Linked DNA regions of Homo sapiens. The protein of the gene in region 2 purifies or fractionates together with the protein of the main gene of each other region. This does not show direct contact. Each region holds a gene or a part of one and is shown on either strand. Other genes may lie near its edges.

What was found.
Region 1: the proteins of FLVCR2 (region 2) and EPN1 purify together in Homo sapiens (affinity purification with mass spectrometry; 2 studies listed by BioGRID and IntAct, with this or other methods). This does not show direct contact.

Annotation. Positions count from the first base shown.
Region 1 is NC_000019.10:55,685,226-55,693,587, forward strand, and holds part of EPN1 (epsin-1), read left to right. Parts: intron 1-170; coding exon 171-420; intron 421-3,644; coding exon 3,645-3,769; intron 3,770-4,071; coding exon 4,072-4,146; intron 4,147-4,641; coding exon 4,642-4,725; intron 4,726-6,528; coding exon 6,529-6,832; intron 6,833-7,460; coding exon 7,461-7,571; intron 7,572-7,725; coding exon 7,726-7,812; intron 7,813-8,362. UniProt on the Homo sapiens protein: Binds to membranes enriched in phosphatidylinositol 4,5-bisphosphate (PtdIns(4,5)P2). Modifies membrane curvature and facilitates the formation of clathrin-coated invaginations. Regulates receptor-mediated endocytosis.
Region 2 is NC_000014.9:75,641,895-75,648,667, reverse strand, and holds the end of FLVCR2 (choline/ethanolamine transporter FLVCR2), read right to left. Parts: coding exon 6,770-6,773; intron 2,268-6,769; coding exon 2,196-2,267; 3' UTR 501-2,195; downstream 1-500. UniProt on the Homo sapiens protein: Choline uniporter that specifically mediates choline uptake at the blood-brain-barrier. Responsible for the majority of choline uptake across the blood-brain-barrier from the circulation into the brain.

The sequences.
Region 1 (8,362 bases), on a different chromosome or scaffold from region 2:
TTTGCATGGCCGTGTCGTATTCTGTGGGGACAGATGTGTGTCCACCCACTGGCGACAGGTGGGTTGTGGGCCTTGCGCCCAGTCGGCCGCCCCAGAGCCCGCGTCGCAGGCAGTCTCTGGCCCGCCTTGTGCCCGGCGTGCTGACCGGGCATCCCCGTGCCCGCTCGCAGGCCATGACGCTGATGGAGTACCTCATCAAGACCGGCTCGGAGCGCGTGTCGCAGCAGTGCAAGGAGAACATGTACGCCGTGCAGACGCTGAAGGACTTCCAGTACGTGGACCGCGACGGCAAGGACCAGGGCGTGAACGTGCGTGAGAAAGCTAAGCAGCTGGTGGCCCTGCTGCGCGACGAGGACCGGCTGCGGGAAGAGCGGGCGCACGCGCTCAAGACCAAGGAAAAGCTGGCACAGACCGCCACGGGTGAGTCCCTCCCTGCGGCCCCTGACGGCCTAGAGTCTGTCCTCCGCCTACTGCGGCTCCCGGCACCCGGCCGCCCACTGCTTTCTCTCCCAGCCAGGAGGGACCGCGGCATCCCCCTTTGCTTCTCCTCACCTGGGCCCCTTGCTCTGGTCTCACTTGGGCCCTTTTTTTCCCTTAGCACCTCCCATGCAGCAGCTCTGGGACCCTTCCTGCCTCTTGCCTCGTGCCCCAGGGCAGGCCTAGAATTGGGAACTTTTATTCCGCTCCCCCATAGGCTCAGGGCCTGAGGGTGATCAGTGCTGGGGACAGGGCTCTGAGGGGACACGCACAGTGACCCCCGAGGGTGCTGTCCTTCTCTCTGCGCTGAGATGAGGGGAACATCGGAGAGGCAGAGGGGGGCCTGGAAGAGGCACAGAAGGAAGGCCAGAGCCAGGGCCTGCAGGTTGCACCAGGCATCTGGGCCTGTGTTAGGAGCCTTGACAGTGCCTTCTGGAGGTGGAGGACTCAGTCTGGTGGGTGGTGACCAGCACCGAAAACAAAACTTGAAATAGTGCATCCCACATCGTCAAGCCAAGATCTGTCCCACGAAACATTTCCAGTTATGTGATGGGTGTGTGGGTCTCGGACTGTTCCAGGAAGTGTGGTCTGTGTTGGTCGGGGGCTCACAGCCGTGAAGAGGCTAGTCCGGCTGCTCAGGACTGGGAGGGAGGCTGGAGAATGTCTGCCAGGCTCTTCTGCTCTCCAGGAAGAGTGGAGGTGCCTCAGTTAGTGGGGATACGTGGGATGGGGAGGGGCTGCTAGAGCACTGCCCTGGAGGTGGAGGTGGGTCAGCCAGGCCGGTGCAGACAGGAGGAAGGGCCTGTGGCCCTCGTGGGGTCCGGCTCGAGGGACTGGACTTGTTTGGGGAAGTCTAGGCCTTCTGTTTGGACGGGTCTCATTTGGGATCACCTTTCAGCACCCACGGGGAGACATGGGTGTGACGGGGTGTGTGCGACCCTGCCTGGGACTCCAGAGTAGGGACCCACGAGCCAGTAGATGGGCGTGAACGCAGAGAGAGAGTGAAGTGGAGGGAAGGAAGCCGGTGTGGCGTGGGAGTGCTCAGAGCCAGGGACAACAGGAGGGAGTGTAGGCGGCAGAGAGGGGCTGGTCAGCTCGAGGCAGGCAGGCAGGCAGGTGGGTGGCGGGGTTGGGGTGGACGGAGGAGGGACATTGGCAGTAGCTCGGAGGAGAGTGGGAGCCTCAGGTAAGAGGCCTGAGGGTGGGACATCCTGGCTCGGGGGTCGTCAGACTTTGTGCAAGGCCAGAGCTAATGTCCTCTGCGTTGCTGGCCACGCCTTCCCATCCTAGCTGCCTGGCCCCGTCCGCTGGCGGTTGCTGGGAAGCAGCTGCACCCCTCCGACACTCACCAAGGTCTCCGAAATTTGAATTTTATGTAGTTTTCACGTGTCTTTTTTAAGACTTTTAAGTTGTTATTTAATTTTTTAAGGGTACTCTGAATTTTCGCCCATCTTGGTGCATTCTTTTCATTTCTTCCAACCATTGAAAAATGTAAAGGCCTTTCTTAGACCTTCTCAGGCCAGCTGTGGCTGCCACTGTGGTGTGCTGGCCCCTGTCTTGGAGTGAGTTGTGTGGAGGGCTGTGGCTGGGGAGGAGGATGGGGGCAGCTAGGGAGTGAGCCCTGAGACCCTCAGTGGGCAGGGAAGGGCCTGTGGTCCCCGGGCAGCACCGAGGCTGGGTGCTCTGGTGATGGGAAGGCCCGGGTGTTGCTGGCTGGGTGCCAGTATTACCTGTGATGTGGGAGGTGGGGCCCTCAGGGCTGCTGGGCATTGGATTTAGCCACCACCAGGCTGGGGGGTTAGGGGCATGTGCAAGGTAGAGGTTGGGCAATGGGGTGTAGATTCCCAGCACTCACCTCTGAGAGTCCCTAGAGCTTAGGAGGAAGTCACAGGGGCAGGGAAGAGCAGGAGGGGCCACAGGGGTGTGGTCCTCCCTGTGCGCTGGCCTCACCTGTGCCCCACGCTGCCCTTCCATCTGCCCATCCCCTCAGAAGGCCGCTTACCCACCCAAGTCCGTCAATCCCTGCTGGTTCTCTCGTCCTTTCCTCACTCATAACCCCAGATGGTCACCCTTCGGCCCCGCTCTGCCACCCACATGCTCCCTGGAGCATCCCATGCACCCAGCCCTGCTGGGCACACCACACGGGGGCCAGCCTGGGGGCCCCTGGACCCGGTGCAGGTGGGGCCGCCAGACAGCTGCCTGCTGCGGCTCCGGGCAAGGGGAGCCAGGGCCTGCTCGTCAGGGAGAGGCCTGGGCCTGGGGAGTGGGTTGGGTGGGGACACAAGTACAGGACACAGGTGCAAGGCGGCGTCTTGGAGCTGGAGCAGACAGAACTTGCTGACCAGTGCACAGTGGTTGGGAGGGCGGGGCAGGAGAGGCAGGGTCCGCCCTGGGGCTTTGGAGGCTGGGGCAATGGCCCTGTGCTCGGCGGGCCTAGGGCCTGGTTGGAGCCTGTCCTCTGCACTGTGGAGGGGGGCAAGGGTCCACAGGCCTTGGGGGTGGAGAGAACAGTGTCAGGACAGAGTTTGAGGGTAGGCGGGGTTGCTGAGAGGATGCTGCAGTGGAGGCCGGGGATATCTCAGCAGCCTCCTGGAGGGTCCGGCCCTGCCTTCCTGTGTCCTCTCTCTCCCTTCCCCTCCTGCTCTTGGAACCAAGGGCTCCTCGCTAGCCCACTCCCTAACCCCGACTAGGCCTTGGATCCCGCTGTCTCAATGGATGCTGTTCTCCCCTCTGAATTCCAGTTGTTCCCTGCCAGAGCTACCATTCTCAACAAGCCCTGGAAACAGGCCTGGGAAACCTGGGAGGAAGGACCTCCCATCCCCCAGGGGCCCAGGGACAGACCCCAGGCACGCGGAGAGTCCTGGTGGTGGCAGGGCTCAGAGGTTGCTGGGGTTCCCCACCTGCTTATCAGACTGACTTTTGCTCTGGTCCTTCCCTGATGCCTGGCCCCTCCCGTGGGTGGGGCTGCCTGCATCCCCACCCTTCCTCCTCTGAGCACCTGGCGTCTGGTCTCCGCCTCTCAGTCCTAGTCTTGGCCTGCAGAGGTTGTAGGGTGGGGGACTTGGGGGGTGGGGTTGGACACAGAAGCCCCCGTCTGTCTAGGCTATGGGGTTTCCTGTCTCTCGTTCCCTGGTCTGGGTCTCACGCGTTTCTCACCCGCCCTCCAGCCTCATCAGCAGCTGTGGGCTCAGGCCCCCCTCCCGAGGCGGAGCAGGCGTGGCCGCAGAGCAGCGGGGAGGAGGAGCTGCAGCTCCAGCTGGCCCTGGCCATGAGCAAGGAGGAGGCCGACCAGGTACTGGGCGTGCAGCTGGGGCTGTCTGTCCGCCACCCGCCTCCACGCCTCACTTCAGGCTCCCTCCCAGCCAGGCGTGGGCCTGGCCCTCACTGTCGCTGCTCCACATGCTGTCACTCGTCTCCTCCCCAGTCCTGCCTCATCCTCACCCCGCCGTCCCTCTGCGTGTCACTCTCTGCCTGTCCCTCACTGGTTCAGGGACCCCCAGCCCTCTCTTTCTTCGGCTCTATCTGACCCTGGCTCTGCCTCTGACTCTGCCTCTGGCCCCTCCCGTCATGCCCCTCACACTCTCTCTCCCCCAGCCCCCGTCCTGCGGCCCCGAGGACGACGCCCAGCTCCAGCTGGCCCTTAGTTTGAGCCGAGAAGAGCATGATAAGGTCAGAGCAGCCTCCCTGTCCCTGCCCCTGCCAGGGGCTCCCCTCAGACCAGCCCCGTCGCCCCTTCCTAAGTCACCCCCCACCATCCTGCTGGGCCCGAAGCCCACAGGCTCACGCGTGTTGAAACCTCAGTACCTTCAGCCGTAGGATGTAGGACCACAAGTCAGACAGAGCCTGGGTGGTGGCCAGCACAGCTGTGCCAAGGTTGCTCGGGTGACCAGGGTCCCTTCCTCCCCCCAACGCAGGAGATACCACCGAGGCGGGTGCCCGTCCTCCCCGGGTGCGCCAGCACAGCACCCCACTCCCCTTATCCCCTGTCCCGCCTGACCTTTGACCCAGGTGCCCCATCCCCATTTCATACATTGTCCGCATCCCATCGAATCCTTCAGCCGCTTTCGTTGGGGTGGGAGGGGTTGCTGGGGCTTCCAGGCTGAGGTGGCATCTGCCCGTGGCTCACGTTCTCATGTCTCCCTGGTCGTGCCCGTGCCCCAACAGGAGGAGCGGATCCGTCGCGGGGATGACCTGCGGCTGCAGATGGCAATCGAGGAGAGCAAGAGGGAGACTGGGGGCAAGGAGGAGGTGAGCGGGGCTTGTTCTGCCCTCCCTGGCCCCTGCAGGTGTCCGTCCGTCCCATCGCTCATTCCTGCGTGGCCAGGTCCCTGGAGCAGAGACTGAAACACAAGGTCCTGGAGCTGGGCACCGGGTTTCCAGGCTTGGTCGGCCTCTCTGTGCCTCTCCCTCCCTGCTGGGCTGAGGCCGGTGACTGACCAGGCTGCCCTGCGGCCACCTCCTGTGGTCAGCGCTGGCCATCCCCCTTCGGGCTGAGCACCGTGAGGGCCACCACCGGCCGCCACAGCTGAATGGGGAGGCCCAGAATAGGCCAACAGCCTGGCATGGCCACAGGGAGGAGGGTGCAGGGCTCGCCCCATCTGTCACACTTTGTCGGGCACCTCCTTGGTGCCAGGCCGTGTGCTGCACACCCAGGGCCTGTTGGTGAGCGAGGAGGCATGGTCCCGCCCTCGCGAACACTGTTTCTGTGGCGTCCCCATGCTCTGCAGCTGAGTAGCAAACCCTCCCACAACCTTGTGCTTCCAGGTCACGCTTCAGTACTTCCCTGTGACGGGCCCGCTGGCTGGTTGTTTCGTGTCATGGCTGAGGTCACTCATGCCTCTGGGCCCGGGGTGTCCGCACTGGCCTTGCCCTCCAGCCTCCTCCCCTGGCCTCTCCCTGGTTACTAGTCTGTCCTGAGTGTCCTCATAGCACAGTAGCTGCTGCTGCTGCCGCCCCCCAGGACAAGCTCGTCGGGCTGGGTTGGAGTTGCCTCGTCAGCCTGTGCACTGCTATTGGTCTCAGCAGGTCCTGAGGCCAGCCCAAGTTTGAGGGGTGGGGACAAGGCCTCCTCTCCATGGGAGGCGGCAGACAGCTTGTGGCCATAAGTGATCAGGCACAGTGGGACTTTCTTGGTAGACGGAAAGCCTCTTTAGGTTGGCCTCGGCCAGGGGGTCTCTATCAGTGTCCACCACAGCCCAGTGACCCGAGTAAGGGCTGCCCTGCTGGGGGAGCACCAGATCTCACCCATCTCTTCTCCTGCCCTGCCCTGGACTCAGCTCTTCTCCCCTTCCCATCCCCGCCGGGGCCTTTGCCTCACGGGTGCTGACTGGAGATGTGTGCATGAGTATGTTGGGGGCATCTGCACGTTCTGAGACGGGCTCTGGTTAGCTGGGCCCGTCGTGTGCCCACTTCCAGAACACAGGACCATGCATGCGTGTGCGTGCGGCATGGGAAGACCTGCAGTGCGATGACTGCGGGGTGACAGTGGGGCAATGGGCGTGGGAAGGCCTGCAGCGCGATGACTGCGGGGTGACGGCGGGGCAACGTAGGGGGCATCGTGAGGGGTGCTCAGGTTGACCTGAGTGGGTTCATGGGGGGCTTCCCAGGGGAAGGCATGGAGCAGGGGCTGGCCAGTCTGGCTGGAGAAGGCACGGTGGGCAGAGGGAGGATCGAGCTGCTTCGGGTCGAGCGAGGGGAGGGCTTGGCCTCCATCCTCAGTCAGGGCCGGGCAAGGACCTGGGAGCAGGTGGAGTTAAGGGGCTGCCCTGCTGCAGTGTGGAGAATGGATGTGGGGCAGGAGTGGGGCTGTGTTGGGGCTCCCTGGTGGTACCCTCGGGTGGGGTAGGTGGGCAGGGGTGGGCCGACCCCATGACGGATGAGGAGGGAGGCCAGGTGGTGTGTTTGGGGCCTGCCTCCCTCTCACCCCTTATGGATGGCTGCTGTCTGGACACCCAGGGCCTGGCCGCCTCCCCCGCCACGGGCCCCAGCTTGGTCCCTGTCCCAGGCTTCCCACCACTTCTTCATGCTCCTTCTCTTCTCTCTCCCCCACAGTCGTCCCTCATGGACCTTGCTGACGTCTTCACGGCCCCAGCTCCTGCCCCGACCACAGACCCCTGGGGGGGCCCAGCACCCATGGCTGCTGCCGTCCCCACGGCTGCCCCCACCTCGGACCCCTGGGGCGGCCCCCCTGTCCCTCCAGCTGCTGATCCCTGGGGAGGTCCAGCCCCCACGCCGGCCTCTGGGGACCCCTGGAGGCCTGCTGCCCCTGCAGGACCCTCAGTTGACCCTTGGGGTGGGACCCCAGCCCCTGCAGCTGGGGAGGGGCCCACGCCTGATCCATGGGGAAGTTCCGATGGTGAGTGCGTGGCCCACTTGCATGCAGCCCCTACGCCTGTGTGCACCTGTCTTTGGTTGACTGTGCCCTTGGACAGGGACAGATCGAGCCAGTGGCGCCGGGCAGTGGTGGGGCGTCCTGGGTGCAGGGGAGGGGGCAAGGGCGGGGGTCAGATGAGAGCCCAGCACAGGGTGTGTGAGATTGTGCCTTGGAGGACATGGGGGGTGTGCTGTGGGGAGGGGATGGCAGCTCAGCCGAGGGGCAGAGAGGCTCTGGCCAAGGCAGAGCGTGTGTGACGTAGGCATCTGGGGAGGGCGGTGGGTGGAGCTGGGAGGTGCAGGTGGAGAAGGGGCCTGACACCCAGCTGGACAGGGGAGGGGTGGCCGAGCCGTGGGAGCTGAGGGAGGGCTGGGCAGGTCTGGCAGAGGCTGCGGGGAAGCCCCTCACCCCAGCTGGGGTCCCAGGGGCAGAGCCTGGCAGAGAAGCCCAGTTGGAATTTGAGTGTGTGTGCGGGAGGCCGGGTGGGGTGGGTTTCTGGGGGGCAGGGGGGCTTTTGTGTGAACAGCCACAGATTTGGAGGCAATGGTCCTCCCTAGCCATCTGGGCAGTCAAGGTTGCCAGCCCCTCATGCTCTTCTGTCCTCACCCAGGTGGGGTCCCGGTCAGTGGGCCCTCAGCCTCCGATCCCTGGACACCGGCCCCGGCCTTCTCAGATCCCTGGGGAGGGTCACCTGCCAAGCCCAGCACCAATGGCACAACAGGTACTGGAATGGGGGTGGGAATGGAGCCCCGGGTGGGAGTGAGTGGGAGAAGTTAGTGTTGAGTGTCCTAAGGGAGGGGTGGACGCCTGGACTGGAGGTGGGGGCTGAGGCGGGGCCCCAGGGAGGGGCTGAGCAGAACATCCTGACCCCACAGCAGCCGGGGGATTCGACACGGAGCCCGACGAGTTCTCTGACTTTGACCGACTCCGCACGGCACTGCCGACCTCCGGGAGCAGCGCAGGTGAGCCCCTGCCCTCCCCTGCCCAGTGGCGAGAGGGAGCCTCCCCTAGCTCTTCGGGAGCCCCGTCCCTTGCTGTCTTTGTCCCACTCCAGGCAGGGCCGGCTGGACTTAGGGATGAAAAGTTCAGTTGGGTAGAGTGGGCCAGAACCATCCACCTGTCTTTAAAAGAAGTGTGCATCTTTATTTTAGAGAAATTGCAGACTTAGAGAAAAACTGAGAATTGTTCTCAAGGTTTCCCACCCGAATGTTGACCTCTGACCCGTCTCTGCCTCCACGTTGCTTGAGTGCCTTGCAAACTCTCCAGGTGTCTCAAAGAACACGGACTGTCTTGTCCTGTGCAGTGAGCTGCGTGGACAGGGGTTTGGAAGGCAGCCGAGGCTCCCCTTCCGGGTCGCCACTCACCTGCTGGTGGCTCCTGGGCTGGCCAGGGTGCGTCCTCATGGGTGCTGCCTTTAGCTGCCCTGGCTCCTTGGGGTTTTCAGCTGGCGTAAGCTGGCGCCCATCGCCGGTGACGGGCCCATCTGCTGAGTCCTGAGTGGCTCTTCGTCAG
Region 2 (6,773 bases):
GGGATGAGTAACAGGACGTTGGCCAGTTAGGAAGAAAAATGGTAACGCAAGACTGCAGCTGCTGGGACTGAGCCATGGGCCCCAGCCACAGCAAGCTGATGCATGGCTGAGGTAATCAGAGAACAAACATTTCAACCACCCTTTGAGGCAGAGCCAGAAACAACAGTGGACTCTCTCATCAGCAGTCACTCACATTCCAGCGCGTACACAGCATGGAAAGAGGTCAGGGTCGTGCTGGATGTTGAGTTGCAGTCCCTCCATGTAGGCAAACAGTAACCTTTACAGCCTTGTCTTTAAAAAATATCCCTCCCAGATGGTAAGGTCTGGCAACAGTGAGATGCTCCTGTGGAAGACCACAGTTGCTGCTTCTCTAGCCTCACACTCCCCCGCCCCAGCCCAGCCCTTCCCCACACCTAAGACAGGAGCCTCAGGAATGTGTGACAGTCTTGCAGGGACTTCTAAGAGCCATCTCTGCCCCACTGAATGATAAGGCAGACCACTTTCTGAGAAGTTTTTATTGCCTCGAAATGTCAGATCTTACAAATAGAAAACACAAATTATGTTTTTAAAATAAAGCAATAGGTTTGGTAAACATTTTGTTAATACCTTTTGAAGGGTTTATGAGTAAACATCTTTCTCTTTATCAAAAAGTAAAGCACACCCTCACCTCTCTTCCACACTGACTCACTACTTCTGCCGAAAACGTGGACTTCTTTCTTCTATTACATACAGCATGTTCCTTGCATCCATTGCTTGAATCTGTACAAACACACACACACACACATGCAGACACACACAAACCTGGCTCCTCTCAGGCAGTGGCCCAAGCACCACAGTATTGCAGCCAGCACAGGCTGCCCTGATATGCTGAGGCCAGGGCAGTGGCTGGAGCAAGACAGCACAGTGGTCACGATCACAGTTGCCCAATGCATAGGAAAAATTACCAAAACCTCATTTTTAGGAGATATTACCAAAGCCCATGAGTACAGCCAAACAGCAGGCTAGATAGGAAAGATCAGCTTGAGTTGGTTTAAAGGGAATCCCTTTAAGTTTAGAATATCTGATAAAGATTATCGCTCAAAGCAGGTGAGGAGAGGGGTTGGTGGTGCAAATACTGTCCCCAGCAGAGGTGAGATAAGCTTTTAATTCTAACAGGCTCAATTCCCATTTCAAGGGGCACCTTTCCTTCTACCCCTTCCCTCTTATCTCTCAGAAGCACCTTTGGATTTTCAGAGTAGAATGAATCAAGATTAGTTTTCAGCAAAGGTTAGAGTAAGTTGACGGGGATTACCCTGCCTTGGAATAAAACAAGCACTTGGGCTGATGGCTGAGATTCCCAATGCAACATCAAGATAAAGGCATCAGAGGTGACTGTGACACACAGAAGTCCCTGGGGAAGTACTTCTGTAAAAAAGAACCTTCCCATTCCCAACTCAAGCTACCAGAGTTCCCAAATATGTGCTTTCACAAATATACTCAGAAGGTAGCCCCCAGCATGATCACACCTAGGTAGGTAGCCCTCCTGAGTCGGTATCTCTGTCATGGCCACAACAAAGTCTTTTGTCAAGTTTATTATGGTTGGTTTGCTCAGCTCTTAGGAAAGAGGGTTTGGAGACAGACCCGTTAGGCCAGGAAAATTTAGGCCCACAAGTCCCGGTGGAGCTGTTCTGATGGAGTTGTTCTAATGGTGCTTCCTCTCCTGCAGAACTTGAGCAATCAGTCCGATGACCCAGGAGATGACCCCGGCAGAGCAGCTTGCCACTTATTAGAACTGGGCTTCATGAGAGGCTCTTAGGACACTGGAAATTTCAAGTTAATATCCTGAATAGGCTTTCTTCCTGTGAAAATTTTGCAGGCATTGTCCACGATGGATGGAGGAAAAGAGGGAAGGCAAGAGACCAAGCTAGGATTGACTCCAATATTCTCTGCCACCCTGTCCCAACACCAACTCCCATAACCTAAAAGGGGGTGGAGGTGGGAATCAAATTTGCATTTGGTGATAGGTGCAATTTTCTCCAACTAAATCATCCAAGCTCTTACGTGGGTTCTAGGAGGAATAGGCCATCCATGCCACAAATAGTCCCACTGATTCCCTCCAAAAACATCTCTAGCGAAGCCCTTTGTGCTGGCGGTGAGAGCTGTGCTGAAGGAAAAGGTGGGGTGTTCGTGTTCCCTGAGTTGTCACCACCTTCCTCTCAGAGATGATCCTCTGACACAGCAGTGGGCACTTTGCTGGTGTTGCTCTCCTCCTCCTCCTCTTGGAGTTTCTATAAAGCAAAACAAACAGGCAGTGCTGTGGGTAAAGGCACAGCACTCCACCCTGGCTGGAGCAGCTGCCTGGCCATGACTAATCAGTGGGGAATACAAGAGCCGGGGGCCACTCAGCATCCCAGAGAGCCAAGAAAGAGAACAAGAAAAGAAGCAACCAGCCCCTGCCATAAATGCACCCACAAACACACACCACCCAACATCATGAGGTCATCAGAGGGAAAAAGGGGCAAGCTTTCTATGATGCCAAGGCCACCACAAATGATCCAGCTCCGAGTGCCACTCTTTCAGGCTCACTCTCGGGACTGAAACAGAAGCAAAGCCCCTTTTCCCTCCACATTCTGACAGCTGAAAACTCACCTCAACTAACCATCAAATCACTGTCCAAGGTGCCAGGTCTGCGATTCCCTTGGAATTTCCAACAACCCCCACTTGGAGGCAGCCCCAGGATGAGGAATACTTTTTTTTTTTTTTTTTTTTTTGAGATGGAGTCTCACTTTGCTGCCTAGGCTGGAGTGCAATGGCGCGATCTCGGCTCACTGCAAACTCCGCCTCCCAGGTTCAAGTGATTCTCTTGCCTCAGCCTCCCAAGTAGCTGGGATTATAGGTGCCCACCACCATGCCCAGTTAATTTTTGTATTTTTAGTACAAACAGGTTTTCACCATGTTGGCCAGGCTGGTCTCGAACTCCTGACCTCAGGTGATCCACTCACCTTGGCCTCCCAAAGTGCTGGGATTACAGGCGTGACCCACCGCGCCCAGCTGAGGAATACTATCATAATGAACATGCAGTAGATGCCAAAGCAGCATGCATAATTGCATATGTAAGCTCAATGGCTTTAGCTTTCTAGGGGAGGGATGGCACAGGATTCATTTACAGGAAAGTCTTCTAAGTCACACTTTTTAGGTGAGTTTGGAATTCAACATGGCCTGGAAATTATCCTGTGGGGCCCCTAGGTACATACTGCCAACCTGGGCCTTTGTCTACTGTTTTAAGAAGTACTTTGTCTGTGACCTCAAGGGTTCTTCTGATTCACAAGAAGGCCTTGGGCACAGGTGCAGCACCACACAGCCAACACTACTCAAGGCCTAGAGGACATGCACAGGGCTAAGACAGAAGCCAATGTCAAGTGGACAAATGGTGCTTTCTTCCCCAGGGAGTGTCTCAGTGCCTGTTTGTGGTAATGGAGACAGCTGTAGAATCCAACCTTCCCATTCTCAATCTTGCTAACACTTGGCATCAAGTCAGCCTCAGCCATGAGGAGCCATCATTCAGGAAACTAACAGCCTATTTCAGTCACTTAGTCTCCCCTCTCTCTCTGACACACACACACACACACACACACACACACACACACACACACACCACGCCCGCCTCCTCCAAAGCCATCACCTGGAAATCACAATCACAAATGGGAAACAAGTTAGTGGAGACAGAAGTGCAACTACTGTCTATGTGCTAGAAGAAAAATGGAAACCCAAACCAGTAAGATGTTCATAGTCAAGGTCAATCATTACCCTGTCCCAGAAGTCCCATCTCTTTTTCCCTAAACTATACATCTCACTGATTAGAAAGAGCAGGTCTGGCCAGATCTGCCGTGTGCCCAGTCTTCACCTGACTCTGACAATGAATTTGTCCACAGGTCTCTGAGTTACACCAGCTGCCATGGGGTGCGTAATGTCACGGCTCCAGAGGAGGGCTGCTCTGTGATGGCCCTGGCTTCCTTGCTGGTGTCAGTCCCAGCATGACTTTGACCCCCCATAATACCATGCTGCCACAGGTGCCAGGGAGGTCTACAGACACATAGTGAATTATCCAGGGACACAAGACAGGTGAGCACCATTTATTGGAACCTAAGGCTGTTATTCCTACTCAGCGCTATTTCCAGCACCCCACACTCAAAAGAGACTGAGCCAACAATTGTAACCTTGATTAACAAACCTGGTCCATGTACACAAAGAGCTGGCTGCAAGAATAATGAAATAGTGGAACAACTGAAATATTGAGTGAGATGGAAATACACAGTAGACATGAGGTTGTGGTATAATGTAACACTGTAGAAATGTTATCAAGCTATACTAAGTAAGCAGGGTAGAAAACAAAATATACGCAAGCATGTCCATAGATTACAACACTGGAAATGCTACTAGGTTATCTCTGGGAAGCAGGATTATAGGTGATTTTTATTTTCTTTGTTTGCCTATGTCTGCCAACATAAACACAGGTTATAAAGTCAACACAGCAAATCTTATGTCACTTGACATAATACGTCACGTTCCAAACTGAAACCTTTCACTAGGCTATACATATATTTACCCAAGTGTACCAAATCATTTCTCTCTCTCTCTTTTTTTTTTTTTCGAGATGGAGTCTTGCTCTGTCACCCAGGCTGGAGTGCAATGGCATGATCTCAGCTTACCGCAACCTCCACCTCCCGAGTAGCTGGGATTACAAGCGTGCGACACTAGCCTGGCTAATTTTTGTATTTTTAGTAGAGATAGGATTTCACCATGTTGGCCAGGCTGGTCTCAAACTCCTGATCTGCCCACCTTGGCCTCCCAAAGTACTGGGATTACAGGCATGAGCCATCGCGCCCGGCCAGTGTACCAAATCATTATGTCCCCTTGTACACAGTGTGGGTGAAAAATCCATCTCCACAGTGGCCATACTATGGCCCTGACACAGAATTAAAGAATGTCATTCCTGCTGAAAGGCCTTCCCTGTCTCCCCAGTGAATTTCCTGTTCTAGGCTCCTTCTTCCACATGCTTTTCTGCTGCTGCCTGCCAACTCTAGAACGTAATAGCAAAAGACAAATAGTAAAGACCTAAAGATTATCATCTATCTGCCAACACAGATCCTTCAAACACTAAAAATATCCCTTACAGATATCTCTTGCCTTAGAAAATTGGCGAAGATTTTTCAAAATGAAAAATACTCAGTGTTGGCGCTCATATGACTGCCTAGCAATAGAAATTGCTAGTACTCAAAGTACCTTTCTAGAGGACAGTTTAGCAACACATACCAAAGTCTTTGAAATGGGCATGACCATTATTCCATTTCTCCAGGAAATATGGTACTTGAGAACATGCACAAAGATTCAGCTTCCAACATATTAATCACAATATTATTTGTAACAATTCAAAACAACCTTAATGTCCACAGACAGGAAAATTGCTAAATAAATCATGGCTTATCCGTATAAAGGAACACTATGCAGGCATTAAAAGTATGTTGTAGGCCAGGTACAGTGGCTCACTCCTGTAATCCCAGCACTTTGGGAGGCCAAGATTGGTGGGTCATTTGAGGTCAGGAGTTTGAGACCAGACTGGCCAACATGGTGAAACCCCGTCTCTACTAAAAATACAAACATTAGCTAGGCATAGTGGCGTGCACCTGCAATCCCAGCTACTTGGGAGACTGCGGCATGAGAATCACTCGAACCCGGGAGGCAGAGGCTGCAGTGAGCTGAGATTGTACCACTGCATTCCAGCCTAGGTGACGGAGCAAGACTGTGTCTCATAAAAAAAAAGTATGTTGTAAGAGACTAGTTGCCTGATAAAGTGCTTGCAATAAGTGAAAAAAGCAGTTTTATTTCTGTTTAAAAATATGCATTTATATACACACATTCATATATCCACGTATATATTATAAGTGGATACAGACATGCAGCAATCAATGCAAAAAAGGCATCTCATCTCTAAATGATGAAATTACAGGATGATTTTTAAATTTTGTACACTTTTCTGTATTTTTTACTTATTCTACAAAGAGCATGTATTACCTCTATAAGTTTTTTTTTAATTTTTGAAGAAATATCTTACCTTTGCTCTTTCTCAGATTTGAAATTCCTTTCATCATCACTCAGATTTGATACCTAACATTTTGTTTAAAGTGGTTCCCAGCTGGTTAGAACAGATGGAAAACACTTTTCTGTTCTAGGTCATACTCCTGGTCCTCTCCTCTGCTACCTCGCCAGCTCCTGCTTCCTGACTTGTCCTTTCAGAGCCCCACTGGCAATTCTTTGGCTCCGTCCCCATGGCCCTGCCTAAGGAGTTGTCACATGCCAGGAGAGTCACAGCCTTAGGGCCAGCACTGCCATGACAGAGTGGTGGAGCCAGGCTTCCCCTTCCTCCCCAGCCACTGACCCCAGGCTGAAAACAGTGGAGCCAGAGCCTCAGGACTCGGCTCAAGATCCAGTCAGGGGTGCTGTTCAGCAGACTGTGACAACGGTGACACACTCTGGGGATGAGGCCGGGGGCTCCAGAAAGAGGGCAGGAAGTGGGAGAAGAGTCCAAGAAAGGGTAGCAGTAGCAAGAACGCAATGCCAAAGATGCCCACTGAGGAAAGTCTTAGGATGCCATGTGTAAGGGATGAACTGGTCTCCCAGCTATGACAAAACCAGTCCCTGTGGGAGTTCTCCCTGCCCCATCTATGTTGCCACATCCTCATCAAAAGCCTTGGACCCCGATCTCAGCCCCACAAAGCTCCCATATACTCACGTTC